2 separate regions of the Homo sapiens genome follow, and region 1 is linked to region 2. The links come from fine-mapping of genetic effects on gene expression. A gene starts in region 2. The other region holds a variant in brackets. All regions are shown on one strand. Distances are from middle to middle.

Evidence for each region.
Region 1: its variant is fine-mapped to the expression of SNN in whole blood (TOPMed, PIP 0.99). The same link has a PIP of 0.9 or more in visceral fat.

Annotation. Positions count from the first base shown.
Region 1 is chr16:11,695,269-11,706,472 of GRCh38, reverse strand. It overlaps TXNDC11 (thioredoxin domain containing 11), which reads left to right. Exons shown (of 12, transcript NM_015914.7): 6 at 5,909-6,021; 7 at 8,148-8,348. Among named protein-coding and RNA genes, the nearest start is that of SNN, 32 kb to the right of the region's middle. The variant G/A (reference allele first, on the strand shown) is at 5,434.
Region 2 is chr16:11,663,730-11,674,933 of GRCh38, reverse strand. It overlaps SNN (stannin), which reads right to left and starts at 6,479. Exons shown (of 2, transcript NM_003498.6): 1 at 6,394-6,479. RefSeq lists silencers at 1,828-1,897, 6,387-6,806 and enhancers at 1,436-2,255, 5,180-5,279.

The DNA.
Region 1 (11,204 bases), 32 kb before region 2:
TTCCCCAGCCCATGCCCATGGGAGATGTGCTGTGATGGGTCTAGATGGTGCCTGTGTGCACAGCCTTGTAGCCGACGATCACAGGGCCCAGGGCTCAGCACCCTCTGTAGCAAGCAGCCAAGGAGCACCCTCCCTCCCTGAGGGGTGAGTGGCGCCAAGAGACATGCTGGCTGTGGTCACCTTGACCTTCTTAGCCACCTGCATGAGCAGCTGTGGAAACTGGTTAGTAACTAATTCTTTACCCAGATGTTCCTTCAAGATTTCATTACATCTTGCAGTGATCATTGACACCAGTTGTCACTGTATGGTTAACAGAGATCTTGAACTGGCCAATTACCAGGCTAATGGAGAATTTTTTTTTTAATCGAATGGGATACTGCAGTTTTTAGACCTTTTTGAGTAGAGGAGGGGAGAGTATGAGTCTTAGTTTATTTTTAATTGTCCAACAAATTCCAAGTTCTTAATTAAAATATTGAAAATTCATTACTTTTAGGACAAAATAATTCATTTTATAAATGACTAAGACTTCTGTCGTAGAAAGCCCTGGAGCTCTGCTTATCAGAAAACACTCTGGATAAGGAGATGTGACATGCTGGTTTTTTGTGTCATCTTTACGCTATAAACTTCCTCTGCTAATCTAAGTATTCTTTGTTCACGTGAGACTGCAAATTTAAGCTGCTGCTTCTAGCAAGATTTCCACCATATGCTAGAACTTAAATAGAAGCGTGTTTTTTGTACATTTCTGTTATGTGTGAAAAATAAAGTTTTGAAATTATAATATGTTTGAGCATGTTAGAATTTGTTCTGTATGGGCAGACTGTCCATTCTTATTAAGGCAGTTAAACAGGTTTTTGAATGGCCCCTTTTAACTTTTGGGTCAGGCTGTCACTTCTTATTTCTCTGCTCTAATAAATCACGATGGTGACTTTGGCAGGCTATCAAATGAATTTCCTTACTGGCTGCTTTTCCTTCTCTTCTTTTAACTGTGACTGTCCTCCAAGATCAGCTGCTTCTGGAGAGTGGTGTTTTGGTCCTACTAAATCACGTCCTCTCTTTGGTCTGTTTCTTCTGACAGCTTTGGGATCTGGACTTATATGCCATGCCCTTTAAACAAAGTTTTTAAAAATCTTCAACTAATTCTATACTTAGAGAAAAGTTGCAAAAATAAAACAGAGAGTTCCATAATTGCCTGTCTTTAGCCAGTTTCCCCCATTGTTAACATCTTACATAACCAATTGTTAGGTGGTTTTGTACAAACTAAGAAGTCAATGTTAGAGTTGGGTGTGGTGGCTCACACCTGTAATCTCAGCACTTTGGGAGGCTGAGGCCAGGTGGATCACTTGAGGTTAGGAGTTCGAGATCATCCTGGCCAACATGGTGAAACCTTGTCTCTACTAAAAATACAGAAAAATTAGCTGGACATGGGGGTGCATGCCTATAATCCCAGCTACTCGGGAGGCTGAGGCAGGAGAATCACTTAAGGTTGCAGTGAGCCGAGATGCACCACTGTACTCCAGCCTGGGCGACAGAACAAGAATCTGTCTCAAAAAAAAAAAAGAAAGAAAAAGAAGTTAACATTGGTTCGGTCCTATTCACTAAACTGCAGACCTCATTTGAATTGTCTCCATGTTTCCACTAGTGTCTGTTTTTGTTTCAGGATCCAGTCTGGGATCCCATATCGCAATGTGTTGGTTTTTTTCTCAGTTTCCTTCAACCTATGACAAATCCTCTGTCTTTCCTTGTCCTTTATAACCTTGACACTTCTGAAGAATATTTCTCAGGTATTTTGTAGAAAATTGCTCAATTTTGTCTGTTTTCTTGTGACTGGAATAGGTCATGTCTTTTGACAGCAATACCATAGAAATAGGTACTTCTCAGCACTTCTTATCAGGGGGTTCATATGATGTCAGTGTGTCTCCTACTGGTGACATTAACTTTGATCAGTTGGTTAAAGTAGTGTCTGCTGTGTTTCTCCACTGAAAAGTTACTATCTCTTCCTTTGTAATTAATAAATAAATACCTTGGGGGAAGATCATTTGACACTATGTAAATATATCCTCAAACTTCTGCTCATGAATTTTAGCCTCCATCAGTGGATCTTGCCTGCAACAATTACTCTGGTGTTCAAATGGTTATTTTCTGTTTCTTTCATTCTTTTTTCATTATTAGTGGAATTCTCCCTTAAAGAAGAGCTGACTGTTCTCATTAATATTATTATGGAGTCATGGGTATTTATCTTATTCTGTGTACTGTCATTGTTTATTTTGTTGCTCAAATTGTTCCAACTTTGGCTACTAGGAGGGCTTCAGCTTGGCTCCTGGGTCCTTTGGACAAACCCCCATCCTTTTATGAGCACTTCTTTACTTCATTTATTTTTTTTGAGACGGAGTTTCACTCTTGTCACCCAGGCTGGAGTGCAATGGCAAAATCTCGGCTCACTGCAACCTGCACCTCCCGGGTTCAAGCAATTCTGCTGCCTCAGCCTCCCAGATAGCTGGAATTACAGGTGCGTGCCACCACATCCGGCTAATTCTTGTATTTTTAGTAGAGATGGGGTTTCACTATGTTGGCCAGGCTGGTCTCAAACTCATGACCTCAGGTGATCCACCCGCCTTGGCCTCCCAAAGTGCTGGGATTACAGGCGTGAGCCACCATGCCCAGCCCACTTCTTTACTTCTGATACAAGATATTTCAGGCTTATCTTGTACTTTCTTCACCCCAGCTCTGGAATCAACCTCTTCTCCAAGGGCCCTGGTTTCTTTTACTGGAGAATGGCATTTAGAAACCAAGATCTACGTGCTAGGTATGCTCTTTGGTATTAGGATGTCATTACTTCTAGGTCTTCTCAGTAGATAGAACTAGGAAGTGTATTATACCCACACATGTGCATATATCTGTATTTCTCTATCCATCCCCTCTCTCTCCCTCTGTGTGTGTGTGTGTGTGTGTGTGTGTGTGTGTGTATCAAAAGCCTTAAGTTTATACTCATTCTCTCTGATTTCAATTTAACATCACAGGGTTTATTTTAGCCTTCTCTTATTAATATATAACTTCTTACTGCAACAGTGAGAGTCCTGGCTGTAATTATGTATAATGTACTTACCACAAAGAAGTAAATAAGTTCATAGTTTCAGAATTGCTAACTTATACCTCTTTAAGAAACACATTTACTACCTAGATTTACAGCATTTATGTACAGTTCTTTTTGCCTTTAGTTTTACAGCATCCAGTCAAGATACTGTTTTCCAGTTACTTAGGTTCTTTCTTCCTGTCCCATTCACCATGGTGTTACCCGTTTGCAATAGTTAGGGTTATTTGTACGTGCTGTATTCCACGTTGGGTTTGCCACATCTCGCTTGGTTTTAACTAATTGTTTAATTTTGGAGTGTGTGAAGGGTGTGTGATACATCACTGTGGCCCTAGGAGTCAGATACAAAAAGGCCTACTCAGTGCCAGGCCTCCTCAGCCCTGCCTTCCCGTTTCCAGTCCCCTTTCCCCAGCCTGGCTTATTTGTCCTGTATTTCTTTTGTTTTGTGCCATTTTACACTCATCAGATTTGTATGAAAAATTATTGACTCTGGCAGTAGGGACATACTCACTCCGACCTCATCCTTGTCGGCCACTCCTTACCTGAGGGAGAGAGGACCACACCACTGAAAGATGGGGTCATGGGATAAAACTGGAAACTTTATGGGTTTAACACCTCAATATTTTTATATCTTAGCTACTTGTGTATAATTTGGTAATATTTGATGTTTAACTGTTTTTTAAAAAAAAATTTATTTATTTACTTTGGAGGCAGAGTCTCACTCTGTTGCCCAGGCTAGAGTGCAGTGGCACGATCTTGGGATCTCAGCTCGCGGCAACCTCTGCCTCCTGGGTTCAAGTGATTCTCATGCCTCAGCCTCCCAAGTAGCTGGGATTACAGGTGCCCACCACAACACACCCGGATAATTTTTATATTTTTAGTAGAGACAGGGTTTCACCATGTTGGCCAGGCTGGTCTTGAACTTCTGAGCTCAGGCAATCCACCCACCTCGGCCTCCCAAAGTGCTAGGATTAAGAGCATGAGCCCCTGCGCCTGGCCTGTAGTTTAACTGATGTTTTATTTAGCATGTGCTAATAAAGCAAAAAGGGGATAGGAAAGAATGTACCTTTTTCTGCAGTATCTTATTCACCCTCCTTTAACACTAAATACTTTATAATCACACAAATATTATACTCCATGAAAAAAAATGAAAGCTTCACACATAAGGATAAGGTCCCTGTTGATGTTCGTTCTCCAACATCAAACCACTTTCATTATCCTTTTAGATTCTTTATACATTTCTAAACATATGTGCCTGTAGGGGAAAAAACATATATATATATATATATATACACATACATACATACACACACACACATACACACACATAACTTTTATAAGTGTGAGTTCTTTTTTTTTTTTTGTTAACATCAAAAGTCTACTCTTTCAGCCTCTGTTTGTGGTGTATAGTCCTGCCTCATTGTTTTTAACATTTGCAGAATGTTTCTTGGTGAATATCCTTGCATGTGACTCCTAACAAACATGTGGATGCTTAGCAGTGGAAATCCCAGCTGTGTCCATTCTTGTAGTCGGTACAGCAGCTGCTTTCCTGAGTGGCTGTGCCGTTTTGCCTTTTTCCACCAGCATCACATCAAATACTCATTTCTTTACTTTCATCAATACTTGATGTTTCCTTTGTCTTAAATTCTTGGCAATTTGAGGGTCAAAAGTAGTCTTTTGTTTTAATTTGCTTCCTTTTGGGATAGTGAGGTTGAGTTTATTTCCAGTAATTATTAGCCATGTATACATATTTCCTTTTCTGTGGTTTGTCCATGTTAACAATTTTCCTTGTTGATTTGTATAAGTCTTTATATATGCTAGATTTGTTCATTTAATAAATATTTTTTGACCTCTTAACTATACACCCCGGCACTTCTGTAGGTGCTGGGATACTAGCATGAAACAAAGTCTCTAATTTCACAGAAATTACAGTCAGAAGAGGAAATTGGGCCGAGTGTGGTGGCTCACACCTGTAATTCTGGCACTTTGGGAGGCAGAGGCAGGCACATCACTTGAGGTCAGGAGTTCGAGACTGCCCTGGCCAACATGGTGAAACCCCGTCTCTACTAAAAATACAAAAATTAGCTGGGTGTGGTGGCACACGCCTGTAATTGCAGCTACTTGGGAGGCTGAAGCAGGAGAATTGCTTGAGCCCATGAGACGGAGGTTGTAGTGAGCCGATATCGCACCACTGCACTCCAACCTGGGCCACAGAGCGAGACTCCATCTCAAAAAAAAAAAAAAAAAAAAAAAAAAGAGGACATTGGGCCAAAGGAAATCTAAATAAATGAATGAGATTATGCAAATGTTAATAAGTGCTATAAAAAATAGGGTAATTGGTAAAG[G/A]GAGTACCTGAATGGGTCAGGAGCCCAGTTTCCCTTTGTAAACTCTCTCCCCTAAATATTAGCTGTTAGGTGGGGTGGTCAAGGAAGGCTTCTCACAGAAAGTAGGAGCTGAGATGAGTAATGACAAGGAACCAGCCACAAGAAGTGTCCAGACAAAGAGAACAGCATGTGCCTCAGCCTGTCATCAATGGGGACAGGTCAGACCATCATAGGTGGACACAGGGGACTCCTCAGCACAAGTGATTGTCAGAGACGTTAGTCAGAGACATCCTCTCAGAAGCAGGCTTGACATCTGAGGGGCCGAGGTCGGTTTCAGGAGGAGAGGTTCCTCAGCGCCTCTTCCTTCCCTCTCTAGGCTAGGTTACCAGAAGGAGCTTAGCTGCAGGGGTTTGTGCTTCAAGACTTGATCACTGGGTTTTGTGGTTGTTTTAAGGCACAGGCCTTTTCTTTAATAAAGGAAAATTTTCTGTTTCAGATTACCTAGGAACAGTACGATTTGGGGTTATCACAAATAAACATCTTGCGAAACTGGTATCCTTAGTACACTCTGGAAGTGTGTATTTACATAGACATTTCAACACATCACTTGTAAGTATTTTGAAATCACGTTTATGTTAGCGCAGTGGTTCTTAACCTTGTTTAGGTCACAGACTCCTTTGAGAATTGGTTAAAATCTATGGACACTCTCTAGAAAAGCGCATATGATTTTATATATGGATGGAGAGTTCTTACAGCCCCACCCTAGAGCCCAGGCTCCAGGTTAAGAACCCATGCATTAGAGGGCTCTTGAAATTAATGTATAGAAATTCTTTATTTGTATTCTTAGATTTTGGTACAGACTTTAAAGTTTTTCTTCTTGGATAAAATTGCAGAGTTACTCTCTTGAAGAATTGTTACTCTGAGCCCGTGTTTTCAGAAGCTAGGCTTCCACTGAGTGATGTTCTGTGTTTATCTGTTTCTTTTATGATGAGTAGTAATGTGACATGCTTTTCTCCTTAGCTGATGTAATGGATTTTTGAAGTTCTTGTCAAGTCACAGTGAGAAGTTGATGGCTTCTCATCCCAGAGAGCGTCAGTTTTCCATTGTCGCCTTTGTTCCCCGATTTCATTTGCTTTCTGTGGAGCAGCCTGAACTCAGCTGCTTCTGAGCATTGACCTGTGTCCTGCTCAGTCCTATGCGTCTACTCTGTTGCTGCTTCCTAAGTCACATCACTGAGTTGACTTTCCTGAAGTATTCTGTCTCTCTCGCATCACTGTCAGTAACTTACAGGTCATATACAGATCAATTTCCCTGCACCCAGTGTACCCAGCCTTTAAAACCTGCGCCCCCCTTGGCACAATGTCTAAGTCTTGTGCCTTCGGAGGGGCTGTTGGGCCCACTCCAGGGGTGCCCCCTTGCTTGCCAGTCGCCCTGGCTTCTGCATATCTCTCGTAGCCCAGATGCTGTGCTTTACTTCTTGCAGTTTATATTCCAAAAGTCAAATGTATTTTTGTGTTTTCCGAATGGAAATGTTTGAGTGTAGTTTGAGTATGGTTTTTCAAACTCCCATCGTCCCACCTTGACAATCACTGCTGTGGTTGTTTCTCTGCTGCCCACCTACGCTCCTTGTGCCTCTGCCTAAGCTGCTTTGACATCATCTGCTTTTGCTATCTGTCATTTTCCTACATCCTTCATTTTTAGCATGTTACACAGCCTACATATATTTATTTATAGTAAAGGGTACTGAGAAAGAAATTAAAAGTAGATGGGGAAAGAAAGGTAGGACTATGAGATGGAAAAATATATCAGGTTTCTGCTTCGATTTGGTAGTGATTAAGGTTGGTTGGTTTGTGTAGCAGTAGAATTCCTTTTATCAAATGAAATAATACTGGGATACCATTATTTTTAAAAACACAAGCAGTGGTTAGTCTCTGTTATGAGTCAATTTAAATCTTCGTTTTGAGGAGTTTTAAATATCTCATTTTTCAGAACCCTCTGAAGCACCCCTTTGGTAGTTCTGTTTGAAGCCAGTGATTTAAATTGTTAGAATTTCAAAAATAATTTTATGTTCACATACATTGGTTGTTTATAGCAAAACAAAGCAAAAAATCTAGGTGTCTCTTTCATTTATTCGTACACGTAAAATATGATCCGTGGCCTTGTGCAAGTTTAGGTCATTTTTGATTGCTGAAGACATGTGTTGAGTTCCTGCTGTGTGCCTGGTGTTCGTCTAGGCCCGGAGGATACAGGTGAGCAGAACAGACAGCCTGTGCCGCACGGAGGCTCCATGCTGCCCTTGGGGGCAGCATTTGAAGGACCAAGGTCAAAATCTAAATGATCCTTGACTCTGTAGTTTCTGTTCCCTTAGATATGTCTTGGTCCTTTTATGAATACCCAGTGACGTTTAATACCTGTCCTTGGACAGGGTGATAGAGGTTGTTATCGCCACCAGCTGGCAGGGAGAATTATTTGTTGATAGGTGGGTCTGTCTCAAGGCAGAAAGATGAATCACACGATATGGAAGTCACCTCCTGCAACCACTTTTGTTTTTTCAACCACTTGTGAGGAAATGCTGTCTCTGGAGAAGCGGGTGTTAGCTGCACAGTGGGGCCAGGCCCCGCTCCACGCCTGGGTTTTCTCACCCTTAGTGGTGGGGTTGGAACAGCACTGATGTGCCTTGAGCTTGCCCCACCTCACGAGCTCTCCTTTATCCTCTGTGCCTTTGTCCTTCACAGGTCTTCCCCAGGGAGGTCCTGAACTACACAGCTGAGAACATCTGTAAGTGGGCCTTAGAAAACCAGGAGACGCTCTTTCGGTGGCTGCGGCCACACGGAGGCAAGAGTCTCCTGCTGAATAACGAGCTGAAGAAAGGACCAGCGCTGTTTCTGTTCATACCTTTTAATCCCCTGGCCGAAAGTCATCCTTTAATAGACGAGGTAAGAGCTGTGATGTGAAAAGCACCTCATGAGGAGTAGGAAAGCCTCATCTACCTGGCTCCTCTCATCCCACACTCAGTCATTTACTCTGGCAGCTAATGGCTGCCACGAGGGGCAGCTGTGGCTCTGAGCATTGCTCTTTGCCCCTCCATATGGGCAGGAGAGAGCCCGTGTCTAGGACAGGGACTGCCGCAGCCTCTCTGGCCATATTTATTGACAGCTGTTGGTGTCTGGAGTGAGTGGGAAGAGGCAGGGAAGCCACACCGTGCCCTTCTAGAGAAGGACCAAATGCCCTCTTCTGATGTGGCTGCTGTTGAGCTTCCTGTTTAGGGGGTGAAACAGGGAGTGGCAGGAACACAGGCCGAGTTTAGTGTGGCCTAGGAGATGCCATTGTCTTGGGGGTTTGGCCAGACTGCCAGCCCTGGCCATCCTCAGGACAGCAGAGGAGAGCGAGCAGCAGCAGCGATGTTGGGACACCTTGTTTCTCTGAACCTTCCCTGTCGTGCAGAAGCCAGAGTGGTTTTCAGAGGCAGCGCCATCGGAGCCTGCTGTTCCTGCCTGTCTTCGGCTTCATCTGGTGCGCCTGCTCTGGGCGTGAGTTTATTTTCCACACGGAGCATTTGGAGGCGCTCAGAGACAGCAGGCACATTTTGCAGAGCGAGCCTGGAGAGACAGCAGGCACAGTATGCAGAGCGAGCCTGGGGTGGCAAAATTGCATTTACTGAGGTTTTTATTTTTTCACTCCCTCAAGGATCCCTTAATTGGCCAAAACCAATTTCAGACAGCCAGTGTACCACTGGCCAGCTAAGCAGACCTGAGCCCCTCAGCGCTGGCCTGGCCTCCTGCCTGGAGGGACAGGGAGGCAGGACTTCTCGCCCAGGTGGATCCCTCCCTTTGCTGTGCTGGAGTCTTTTTGCTCAAGTTATGATTCCCTCTGGGGAGTATTCTGAATGAATGCTGCTCTTTGGTTTAGAGGAAGAAAGAGGAGAGAAATGAAATAGCTTTGTTTCTTCCCCTCTAATTAGGGAGGACTCAAAGTAATAAAACTATTTCTTTAGAAAATTTTCACTACATGGATATTTTGTGAACTGAGGCACCATTTCAAATGACTAGGCCTTTACTGTATCTAATATTAAGAGCCTTAAAGCTCATTGTAGGAAAGGAAGGTTTTCGGTCAAGGTGGTGTGGCTGTGGTTGTGGATTTGGAGAGTTCTCTCCTGTCTGGTTTGGGTGTGTCAGGGTCCTGGCTGGGTTGTATTTTGTGGCAGGAGCCCACAGCCTCTGCCCAGAGGGTTGTGGTTGGATTTAGGCACCTGGTGGGAAGACTCTTTCTCGCCTGTTGTTTCTGAATGAGTGTCCCCTCCAGCAGTCTGCAAATCCTCCACCTACCAACAGGCCTCCTTTTTATCATGGTTTTGCCTGTGACTCCTTTCTTTGGGGCTCCCATTGTCTCTGTGAGGTGAGTGCGTTCCCTTAACTTCAGCATGTGGGTGAGATGACCGAACACGAGGTGGCATCTCACCGTATTATGAATTACTCAGACAAGCAAAGTGCCTGTCCAGCACATTTCCCTTTTTGTTTCAGGTCAGTTTGGCAAATGTTTACTGAGCACTGTGCTGGGAAGCTCCAGGGGAGAAAGGATAGATGCGACACCATCTTGTCCTGTGGTCTTAGAGGCTTGTCCAGTACAGGGAGTGAAAGCCTGCCTATAATTCAAAGTAGAGGACGATCAGGCCCAGGGTCAGGAGGAACCAGAGGAGGGAGGGTGCCATCTCAGAAAGCGGGGTTCCGGGCAGGGGAGGAGTTAGCAGAGGCTTTGGATGGGTGAAGTATTCGAGACGGACTTGTAGGGGCAGCCAGGATCTTGATGGGTTGAGAAAAACTTACGGGAAGGAGGACCCTGAGCAGAGACATGAGGGACGGGAGTTGCTGCAGGTTTAGGTGTTAGGAAGGAGGCCGGGTTTTGTGGTCTGCAGGAAGGGCTAACTGGGGAGAGATCTTGAAAAAGCCTTTGGAGGAGAGGGCCTTGTGGACTTCTCTGAGGATTTCAAGATTAACCATAGTCATCCAAGTCTTTGTCTTCTCTTTTTTTTTTTTTTGAGTTAGGGTCTTCCTTTGTTGCCCAGGTTGGAGTACAGTGGCATGATCTCGGCTCACTGCCTCCTGAGCTCGGGTGATCCTCCCACCTCAGCCTCCCAAGTAGCTGGGACTACAGGTGCACGCCTCTACGCCTGGCTAATTTTTGTATTTTTCTGTAGAGATGGGGTTTCGCCATGTTACCCAGGCAGGTTTCAAAAGCCCTGGGCTCAAGCGATCGGTCTTCCTTGGCCTCCTAAAGTGTTGGGATTACAGGCATGAGCCACTGCACCTGGCCCATACAAGTCTTACTGACAGTGAAGAGATGCAGCCAGGGCTGTGCGTTATCATTACGAACGTTTTTCTGGCAGGAGGGTTCCAGAAAACTGCGAAGTAGTAAGAACCTGAACTTGGGTGGTAGAGGTGGAGGGTGGAAAGTAGGGTCTATGATCGGGGAAACTGTGACACAGTGACTAGAGATGAAGAAGCCTTTGGGTAAGGTGGGAAGGATGAACGCTGTACTTACGCAAGATGAGCTGTAAATTCATTAGCTTGTTGACCACGAAAGAGTTAGGTGGCTTTACTTTTTCATTACCACCTTAGGCCTAATATTGGGCAGAACTTTGAGGATGCTTGCATTGTTGAGAAGAGAGAGGTCATCTTAGAGTGAGTGGAATAGAGTTGGGGGCATACCAAGCACCAACATTCTGGACAGTTGTGCTGTGGTGCATGTAGGATGCCAGTCAGGAGTGACCATATGGTGGCCGCACCAAGCCCATA
Region 2 (11,204 bases):
TGGTGCTTAGCATCTAATGCAGGCGCCAGACTGTAACTGGTTAGTACCCCAAATGCCGGTCACTCACAATACAGGGTGCCATTGTCAGGAACACAGCAACCAGGTGCCAAGATGCTAACCTGGGTGGGCAGGTGGGAGGCAGGGAGGCGGTGCTGATGGGGAATAGTGTTCCTGGCAGGGGGCACGGTGAGGGCTAAGGCTCTGAAGGCAGAGAGGGTCCCCCTGGCAAGTGCCAGGAGTCGGGGCACCAGCTGATTTGGGTGGGAGCGGGGATGAGGCCCCTCCCAGGCCAGGCCAAGCCTGTGCTCCACATGTTGAAAGAATGACGCCAGAAGTTGGAGGGCTGGGACCACCACCTCCACCTGGCCGAGCCACGGAGTTCACCCATGGGTGGGCCTGCCAAGTGGCGGAGGACAGTGTGGCTATGGAATGCACATAAGGTCTAAGAGTCCCCAGCTCCAGGCACCCTGTCAACCCTCTAGGTGACACCCAAGGCACAGCCAGTGAGAGCATGCTGAGGCCAGGGCTTTGCCTCTGCTGCCCCGCAGTGCTGAGGCTGGCAGGTTCTCTGGAGTCCCAAGACCCTGCACTTTCTTCCCTCTCCTGCCTCGCTCGCCACAAACAGAGCAAACGCTGGCTGCACCCGGGGTCAGTGAGGATGAGGACAGGCCCGAGACGCGTTCTACACAGGACTGGGCGTGCGGTCGGCACTCAGAACGACACGTCTGGCTTTTTGTTCCCTTTGGATAAGACTGACATCAGCACAGGCAGACAGCACTGGAAGGAGGTTTTCCCTCCAAATAGGGTCGAACCTGCTGCGTCCTTGAGGAACAGCACCCTTAAGGAGAAATGATTCTTACCCAACCAGGAGTTTCCCCAGAAGCCAGGTTTGCCTGAAGGACAAAGGCAGCTAAGTCAACGCCCCCAGCGTCTGTCCAGGGACCAGGCCCGGGGAAACCGGCAGCTTCTGCAGAGGGCCCTGGGCAGAGGAGGTGCCCTCCCTCCATTCCACTGCCTTCCCCCTGACTCCAGGAGACAGGCTGCCGCAGGCGCTAAGGATCTCCCTGCCCACCCTCAGGGGCCACTGCAGCCAGGACGCCTTCCAAGTCCTCACAATGACCTGCAGGACCGAACACTACACATCCCCAATATGCCCTGCTCGCCAGCCACGCTGACCCCCGCAACGAACCCTCCTACCAGGCCCTGGCCCAGGCAGTTGCCCCTGCCCAGAACGTTCTGGCGGCTTACCCTTGTTCAGTGGTTCTCAACTGGGGGCCACTGTGTCCCCACCCTGGGGACATCTGGCCATGTCTGGAGCCACTTCTGGTTGTCACAACTGGGGGCAGGTGGCACTCCTGGCATCAAGTAGGGAGACCATGGATATTGCTGGCACCTATCGTGCACAGGGCAGCCCCCACCACGCAGATGGCCCGGCTGGAGAAAGACACCCTGACCCGGTTAATACCAGCTCTGGCAGGGAAGCTTTCCCAACCCGGCCGGGCTCCTTCCCTCCGGAGCAGTGGCCTTGGCATGCAACCCTGGCTTCTGGAGCATGGCCACCTGATTAGCGCCCACCTCTCCCTCCAGCGGGCCATGAGCTCCACGGTGGCCCTGCTCTGTCCCCTGCATGTACAGACCACCCTGGCCTCTCCCCTGCCACCATCCGGTTCCACAACCCCACTTAGCTGTTCTCTCACGCCTCCAGACTGGACAGGGGACCCCTCTGACCCCACAGACAGCCTTCCCACCATGGCTGGGTGAGCCTGTCTACACTCGTCCCAACCTCTGTGTTCTCTCCCTGCAAGAAGAACACCAACCTGCCCTGTGCCTCCCACCTCCCACCTCCCTCTCCCCTGCACCTCTGGTTCCCAGGGCCTGCTGGGGTGCCTGCCCTCCCCTGGGGTTTCTGGACAGGAAGACAAGTCAGTATCAATTCGGAAGGGGAAGTGTGTGTGTTTGGGGGTGGGGGTGGTTCAGGGACAGGAAGTAGAAAATCAAACAATGGCACCAGGACCTGGGATAGGCGGGGCAAAGCCAGGTGGGCAGGCCAGGAGGCACCTGAGTTCAAGGGCCCCAGTTCAACCACTGGCCCCAGGACTAATGAGGAAACTGAGGCACAGGCGGCCCCAGCTCAAAGGGATTCTCTAAGAGGAGTGGTGACCCCAAAACCCCGTCTGCTGCCCTGAACCCAGGCCAGGAGGCATGGGCAGAGCCAGATGTGGGGTTCTGCCCCGCCGCGAGCACAGAGCCCAGTGACTGAGCCACAGTCACGCCTGGCCTGTGGTCCGGCCCTCCCGAGTGCGTATCTGTTCCTTCATTCACTCAGCAAATGTTTCCTGAGAAACGATCTTTGCAAAAATGTGATGGCGTTCTCCCCACTCAGAATCCTCCCCAGCACCAAAGAGAATCCAAGCTCCCTGCCTCCCCAGGCGTCCCCACACCCTCCGCTGCGAGCCCACGCTCCCACCTCTGCCCTGACCGCCCCACGGCTGGCACCTTCCTATTCGGGACTTTCTCAGAAGGCGCCTCTTGCAGGCTGCCCTCCCAGACCACCCTGGACCCAGGCGCCCCTCCTCCCACACCCCACCACTACAGCCTTGCCCTACTTCATTTGCTCTCCTTGCTACCTGCCCTTCTCTAGGCTCAGGGGCTGTCCCCTGGCTGCTGTCTCACTCCCCGCACTGGACTCCAAGGCAGTCCAAGGAGGGCACCGTCTGTCCCGCCCACAGCTGTACCCCTGCCCTGCACGGGTACACAGTAGGTGCTCAGTGAATGGTCTGTTGAGTGTTCCCTCCCTGCAGATACAGTGATGAGTTAGAGGAGACCCTGTTCTCAGGGGGATCATAGGTGGGGGGGTCCCTGACACTCAGGGCACTCCCAGAACCCTGAGCACAGGTCCCCATGTTCTGTCCCAACAGACTCAAAAAAGCCGGCAGACTGCATGGGAGAAGGCTGCAGGCCTAGTGTGGGGACAGAACGGCGAGTGCCAGTGGATTAGGGCAGGCCTGAGCCCATGGAAGGGCAGCTGGCTCCATGCTTGCTGGCAGGCAGGGAGGGAAGGGGGTGGCCAAGCAGAGCCCCGGGAAACTCAAAGCGCGGAGGGCAGCAGGTCCCCACAAGCCCCTGTGCCTGGCTGGACCCCACCTGTCTGTTCTTCCTTTCTAGCCCCTCTGAGCAAAGCTGTGTCTTGCAAGCTGGGTAACCCCTCGCCCTGATCCAGTAAAGCCCACAGGATGCAGGGGACAGGGACGGGCCACAGCTTGGGTTGGGGAGATGCCCAGGCTGGCACATGGGAATCCTGGCCCACCCAACAACCATCATGACAGCAGCTCACATTCATTCCCACCAGCATCTGATCCAGAAAGGCTGCAGCCACCTTTGTTCACCCTAGCATCTCCATCTGGCAGGTGAGGAAACTGAGGCGCACGCAGGGAGGTGAAGCAAAAAGCCAGAAGGCAGGATGGGAGCCCAGAGGGGAGCCCAGCAGAGCCAAGGGGTCTTCCAAGTGCAGAGGGGCCAGGACCCAGAGCACAGCCTGGGCCTTCCATCTCTGGGCAGGCTGGAGTGTCCCCTCTGCCTGGCATTTGAAGCCCAAGGCCATCTGGATCCCCCAAACACACACCCTCCTGCTCCATGTGCCTTCAGTCTTGCCATCCTCTGCCAAGGGGGTCCTGACTCTCGGATCCCACCCACCCACTATAAAAGCAAGATCCAAGGCCCAGGCTCTCCAGAACCCCCTGCCCCAGCATCCTCAAACAACCCCAAAGGAGGTCAACTGCAGCACAGGACACACTCTGTCTCCCGGCAGAGCCCACACATGTCCCAAGGAATAACAACTGCAAGACAAGCCTGAGCCATGCCAGGTGAGCGGGGGCCTGCACCGCCCTTGGCCACTCCTCCCCAGCAGCCCAAGCTTGCAGGTGTTACTGACACTGTCCTGCCGGGTTTGCCAAGGCCCACAGAGATCCGTAACTGGGACCCAAGGAGCATGGGGGCAGAGCCGGGGGTGAACCCCACCCCGTCAGAGCCATTCAAATGGACAGTCCCTGCCCCAGCTACCAGAGAGGGGACGGGTATCCTCCTGTCCTGCTCTCCCTCCCAGGACCCCGGCTTGTCTGAGCCTGATCCCACTCCAGAGGCCACTCCATGTGCTCTAGGCCCGGGGGGCCCACAGACCGCAGTAGAGCAGGCTGGAGTCCCCTCCATCCTCCCAGACCAGCACTCACTTTTGCGGCCTGCTTCCGCCCAGCCAAGCAAGCTGCTCCTCTTGGCCTCAGTTTCTCAATGCGCAAAGCGGATACGAGTCCCTGACCTCATCTACCAGGTCGTGGGGAGGATGAGAAGTGGTAAGAAAAGTGAAAACAAAAGGGACATGAGGTCACCAGGTTTGCATGTCACCAGCCACACCTTCCTGTGTGCTACAGCAGGGACAAAGGGAGAACACTGAGCCCGAGGGATCCCCAAGCCCACCCCCAGGGCCAGAAGGGCACAGAGCCTGGCCCAGGCCCAGTGCCACAAACACCCCTTCCCCAGGGACACGCTGCCTCCTCCTAACTCAACCGGGCACATCATGAGCATTGCCGGGCTCACCACCAGCAAAACACCCCCGCCTTGCAGCCGCCACCTCCTGAGGCTCCTTGACAGACGCCAGGAGGGCTGCCCTGCTTACAGGGGACCAGCCATCCCTACGGGGCTTTCAGTACTGCCTCCCCCCATAAAGCCACCTGCCAAGGGTGCCAACAAACTCTTCAGCGAACCCCGGGTCACAAACCAGAAACGTTTCCTGCCCCAGGTTCTGACTGGGAAAACAGGGTTGTAGGGAGAAGAGGGCACTGCTGGACACAGCCAGGACGAGGCGGGACGTCCGTTCTGCCCTGGGCCTCCAGCAGCCAGTGGGACACAAGGACGCATCACACAAGGCCCCAGCCCTCCAGAAGCCAGGACCAAGAACGGCCGGATGCCAGTGGGACTGACACTGATGGGGCTGTGCCCAGCTCTCTGGCCAGTGTTATCTCATCCTCCACCCCCACCCATGACACCCCCATCCTCAGAAGAGGAAACTCGCTCCAGAATCCCCTAGGTTCCCCAGTGGCAAAAGAGGAAGCGGGAGCCCGCAGAGCTCTGAACCGGGACTGCCCCAAGGTCAGTCGGGGTCTTCCTCGGGCCAGGCCAGAGGCTCATGCCCCCACCCTGTGAATCACCCGCTGGTCATTTTCACAGGCTGCCCCAGGGTTGGCCTGTTTGGCCAAACAACTTTGCTTGTAGATGCCGGAGAAAGTTGGTGGCAATTATATGTGCCAGACACTGAGATAAACAGCTCACGCAGATGTCTCCTTTCTGCCTCAAGACAACAGGGCAGTTGAGCTATTACTGTTCCCTCTTGGCAGATACAGAAATTGGTGGCTCAGAGAAGTTAAGTCCATTGCCCAAGGTCACACAGCTCAAAAGTAGACGCGCAGGGATTCAAACCCAGGCAACCTGCATCCAAAATCCCGCATTTCGACCCTGACTCTAAAATGCCACATTCTCCCTACCTCCTCTCCCGCGTGCCTGAGGGGCCGCGGACAGGTGAACCCCAGTGTGGCCCTCGCTGGGGCGGGCTGGGCGACCTGGGCTGGGTGCTGGGGACTTAGGGGTGACAGCGCCCCGGCGGCTCCCGAGTGCTGAGCGCGGGCGGCGTGGCAGGCGCGGTGCCAGGCGCGCTCCGCGCACCCTCCCGTTCCACCCTGCCCGGCGGCGCCGGCGTCTCCCCCACTCCACGGAGGAGCAAAGCGAGGCTCCAGGGAGGAGGGGGCTCGGCCCAGGGGGCGACAGCTGGAGAGGGGACGGCAGCTGGGGAGGTAGCTCGAATCGGCCCGACGGAGGCGGGGTGTGGGACGGGGACCAGGGGAGCTAGGCATGCCCACGCCGCGCAGCCGCTGCCCACGGAACCGGGCGCCGAACGCTGCGGCCCGGCCTCAGTTTCCCTACCCGCGAGACGGGCGCCGGACGTCACCTGGACCCCTATCCCCGGAGCCCTCCCCGGAGCTCCCAGAATTTTGAAGAACCCCGAAATGCCGGGGGAAGGCGGGAGCGTAGCTGAGGACGGGCGGGGGCTGCACGGGCGGGGGCGAGCGCCCCGCGATCCCCACAAAGCGGCCTCCGCCCCCCGCCGCCTCCTTTGTCCGGATCTCGCCGCAGCGCCGCTGACAAAGAACCCCAGCCCGCGGGCGCGGCCCCTGGAACGGACCCTCCCCCGAGCCGCGCCCGCCGGGCCGCCCCTCCCCCGCCCGCAGACCCCGGCCCGGCCCCGCCGCCGCGCGCGCCCCTCCTCGTCCTGGCCTCCCCCTTCCCGCCCCCGGGCCCCGGCGCCCCCGCCCGGCCCGAGCGCGCGGCCTGCCCCGCCCGGCTCACCATGGCGCGGCAGCGGCCCGGCCCGATCGCCCCGCAGCAGCCCCGCGGGCCCGGCTCCGCCCGCCCGGTCCGGCCGCCGCGCACTCGGGACGCAGGAGCCCCGCGCTGCGGCGGGCGGGGCCCGGCTCCTCCCCGGCTGGGGACGGGGCCTCCCAGAAAGGCCAATGGGAGCCCGCGCTGGGACGGCGGGGCGGGGCGGGCCGGGGCGGAGTCACGTGTGCTCGGGGCCGGCAGGCGGTGGGGCGGGGGCTGCGCGCGGCGGGCGGGCTCGGCCCTGGCGAGCGCGGATTGGGCGCCCGTGGGTACGGGGCCCCACTACAGGCGCCCTTCCTCTGCCAGCCTCATCCTGACCCCGGCAGGCTGCCTTGGTCCCGCCTGCTTACAGCGGAGGAAACTGAGGCACGCTGCACGGAAGAGTGCTGCATACTCCTCGAGAGCTGAGAGCGGCGGGGAATCCGGGGCAGGGGCAGGGGAGAGGCGCGACCGCTGAGGTGAATGACCTTGCTTCGGGAGGAAGCTGGGCATCAGTCGTTCGCGAATTCATTTATGTATCATTCATCCGCCCAGTCAGTCGATGGCGGAACACTGACCACGTGCCTGCCACGCCAGTCGTCGTGGGAGCAGCCACGAGCCAGACAAGGTCCCGGCCCTGACGAAGCTCTCATTCCTCTGCGGGATGAGGCTGTGAGGCATTTGCACCCCTCTGCCACCTATAATCATAGTTATTTTTAGCATAATTACCCGGTGGTTTGGCCCCCACCAAATGCCTGCCCTGTATAAACAGCCCAACACATTTTATTAAGATGACTCCGGAAGAAAGAATCTTCCCATTTTACAGATGAGGAACCTGAGGCTCCAAAGAGCTGAAGTCCCACAGCCTGCTCCTGATGGAGAGAGGGTTTTGAGGCCAGGCCTGTCTACCTGGGAAGACAGAGGCTCCAGTTATTGGAGTAATCTCCACTCATCCACCCCAAGAAGGCCATCGGCGAGAGGACACCCCAGCCCTGGGGCCCACAGAAGGGGTGAGGGTGGGTCCCTCAAGGCTTCTGTGGCCCAGGGGACTTGAGAAGACAGGAGGGGGCAGGGCGAGCTGGGACCTCCTCCTGGGAACGGGGGCCTTATTTGCTGGAAACTTCTTTCCCATTCTCAAGCAGAAGCCTCTGGAAGAGCATGGCGGGTTGGGCTCACGAGGCTGAGGTGGCCAGGCCCTCACTCCCTCCACTCAGCCTCGCTGGGCTTTCTTCCCTGCGCCCAGTGCACCAAGCCTTTCCCACCGCCAGGCCTTTGCCTATGTGGCTCCCTGCAGCTGGAACTCTTCTACTTCATCTTCCCGATCTCAGCTTAAGTGCCCCTTCCTCAGGAGGGCCCTCCCTGATCGCCCAGCCAAGAGTAGCTCCCTTGGGGTTTTTTGTTTTGTTTTTGAGACGGGGTCTTGGTCTGTCACTCAGGCTGGAGTACAGTGGTGCAATCACAGCTCACTACAGCCTCCATCCAACTCCTTCCTGGGCTCAAGCCATCGTCCCACTCAGCCTATATCTATGAATGTGGGCAGATTTGACGAAGCAATTTTTTTTCTTTTTTTTAGAGAGAAGGTCTTGCTCTGTCGCCCAGGCTGGAGTACAGTGGTGCAATCATAGGTCACTGTAACCTGGGCTCAAGCGATCCTCCTACCTCAGCCTCCCAGGTAGCTGAGACTACAGGTGCATGCCACCATGCCCGGCTAATTTTTTAATTTTTTGTAGAGATAGGGTCTCTTGTTGTTGCCTGAGCTGGTCTCAAACTCCTGGGTGATCCTCCTGCCCCGGCCTCCCAAAGTGCTGGGATTATAGGCTTGAGCCACCATGCCCAGCCTACCCATTGTGAAATTGTACATTTTTGACATTGTGTGATGAACTTTTGGTCTTCTCTCCCAGGACTAGGTGTATTGCACTCACTGCTGTGTCTACAGAACAGTGCCTGCCACACAGTGGGTGCTGAATACATGGATGTTGAATGAATGAATGATCGGACTGCAGAACTCCAGGGCGGGTTCAGCGGCAGCCTAGTCAGGAAGCCAGGCACAGGAGGTGAGCTGGGAGTTGCGCAGGAAGGGAGGACAGAAAGGCAGAGGAGAGCCCAGCTTCAGCCAGCTGCCCCACAGGCCAAAGCCGGGCATCTCAGAACAGCTCCGCCCCCACATCTGCCCAAATCCTGCCCCATCAGCCACACCTAGGAGCCCAGAATGGAAGGAAATAGGTTCTTCCCACAAAGCCAGTTCCAGCAGCCTTTGTGGTCCCCGCCTCAAGTTGGCAGAGACTTCATTAGTGGTGAGGACCTGGGAGGGGCAGGCTAAGAACCCCAGAGCCAGGACTGGCAACACGATGACAGGGGAGGCAGGGACACTTAGAGGGGAAAGATTCTTGGGGGAAAATGGTGAGGGAGATTCAGCATGGCATAGAAGCTGGGAGTCAGATTGCCAGATTCCAGGCTTTCCTGCTGGGTGGTTTTGGAAAAACAGCCGAACGTTTCTGTGCCTCAGTTTTTTCGTCTGAGAAATGGAGATGAGGCCGGGTGCGGTGGCTCACACCTGTAATCTCAGCACTTTGGGGAATGCCAAGGCAGGGGGATGGCTTGAGCTCAGGAGTTTGAGAACAGCCCTGGAAATGTAGTGAGACTCCTATCTCTAAAAAAGAAAAGTTAGCTGGCCGTGGCGTTGTGCGCCTGTACTCCCGGGTACTGGGGAGGCTGAAGTAGGAGGATTGCTTGAGCCTGGGAGGTTGAGGCTGCAGTGAGCTGTGATCACACCGTTGCACTCCAGCTTGGGTGACAGTGAGCCCTGTCTCAAAATAAATAAAATAAAATAAAATATACAGCTTCTGACCCACTAGGTCTGAGCCCCAAATCCTGCATTTTTCAAAAGTTCCCGAGTGGTGCTGATGATTCAGGGACAGACTTTGAGCAGCAAGGGCGAGTTCACTTGCTGAAAGTCACAAGGTAGTGGGCTCCAAGCCTGCACTGGAGCCCATGAGATGGGCTACAGGATCCTGCGCTTAACTGCGACCCTAACTGCTTGCTGCAGCCCCACCTTTCTCTCCCCAACAAAGAGGAGGCAGGAAGTATCGCGCCCCTCCCCCAAGCCCATTTCCTCTACCTCCCTCCGTAGTGACATCTGGCCTCACGTCCCCGGGGTTCGTCCTTACAGAATGGGATGGAGGTTCTCAGATGCTCATTAGCCAGGAGGATAATTGAGGGCTTGGGATGAGCTCACCCCAGCTCCCTGGGGCTTGCTGGGGTCCAGCTGGTGTGCCCTGTACCAGCCTGGCCCTCTGCCCACTCCCCCAGCCGCTATAAGGGCTGGGACAAGGAAGGGGGTTGCTCGGCGGGGTGGAGAGGCCTCAGCCTCAAGGGAGACTCTACAGCTGGGACTCCCTGCTCGGGTGGGCGGGCCTCTGCTCCTGGGGCATCTCTATAAGGGATCCAGGCCTGAGAACAAAATGAAAACTGCGTGGCCAGAGGGGATTTTTCCTGAAGGGTGAGATGTGAACCACTGGTGAGGTCTGCAGGGTGAGGTTAGGTGGAAGGCAGAGAGGGCATCACTCACCTCTGAAACCCATAGCAGCTCCCCATTCTAGGGGCAAGGCCTCCTTTGCTGCTAGTGTGGCCTGAGCATCTCTGTAAGGCTGGCTCAGCCCCCTTATGTCCAGGAGAGAGCACAGACCTCAGGCTCAGAATCCCGGGCAGTTGACACTCTGCAGCTAGAACTGAATGATGTGTGGGTTTCTGTGTGTGTATGTTTTAGTTACCTTCTGTGTATGATGTGGGTATTGTGTTTCTGTGTATGGTAATGACATACCCATTGCTTTTTATTTCTTATTTTCTTTGTTTTTGAGGCAGGGTCTTGATTTTTTCACTCAGGCTGGAGTCCAGTGGCACAATCACTGCTTACTGCAGCCTTGACCTCCCCGGATTCTCCCACCTCAGCCTCCTAAGTAGCTAGGACCACAGGTTTGTGTGACCCCACTCAGCTTTTTGTTTTGTTTTGTTTTTGTTTGAGACAGGATCTCACTCTGTCACCCAGGCTGGAATGCAATGGCGTGATCTTGGCTCACTGCAACCTCTGCCATCTAGGCTCAAACAATCCTACCGTCTCAGCCTCCCGAGTAGCTGGGACTACAGATGTACCACCACACTGGGCTAATTTTATTATTATTATTTTCTCTTTCCTTCCTTCCTTCCTTTCTCTCTCTCTCTTTCTTTCTTTCTCGTTTCTTTCTTCTTTCTTTTCTTTCTTTCTTTCCTTTCATAGAGTCTTGCTCTTGTTACTCAGGCTAGAGTGCAATGGCGCAATCTCGCCTCACTGCAACCTCTGCGTCCCGGGTTCAAGCGATTCTCCTGCCTCAGCCTCCCAAGTAGGTGGGATTAGAGATGCCTGCCACCACGCCTAGCTAAATTTTTTTGGTATTTTTAGTAGAGACAGGGTTTCACCATGTTGGCCATCCTGGTCTCGAACTCCTGACCTCAGTGATCCACCCTCTTCGGCCTCCCAAAGTGCTGGGATTACAGGCATGAGCCACCGCGCCTGGGCTATTATTTTTTTCTGCAGAGATGGAATCTCTCTATGTTGCCCAGGTTGGTTTCAAACTCCTGGGCTCAGCGACCTGCCCACCTCAGCCTCCCAAAGTGCTGGGATTACAGGCATGAGGTACGGCGCCCAGCCCCCATTGCTTTTTTTTTTGAGACAGTCTCACTTCGTTGCCCAGGCTGGAGTGCAGTGGCGCAATCTCGGCTCACTGCAACCTCCGCCTCCTGGGTTCAGCTGATTCTCCTGCCTC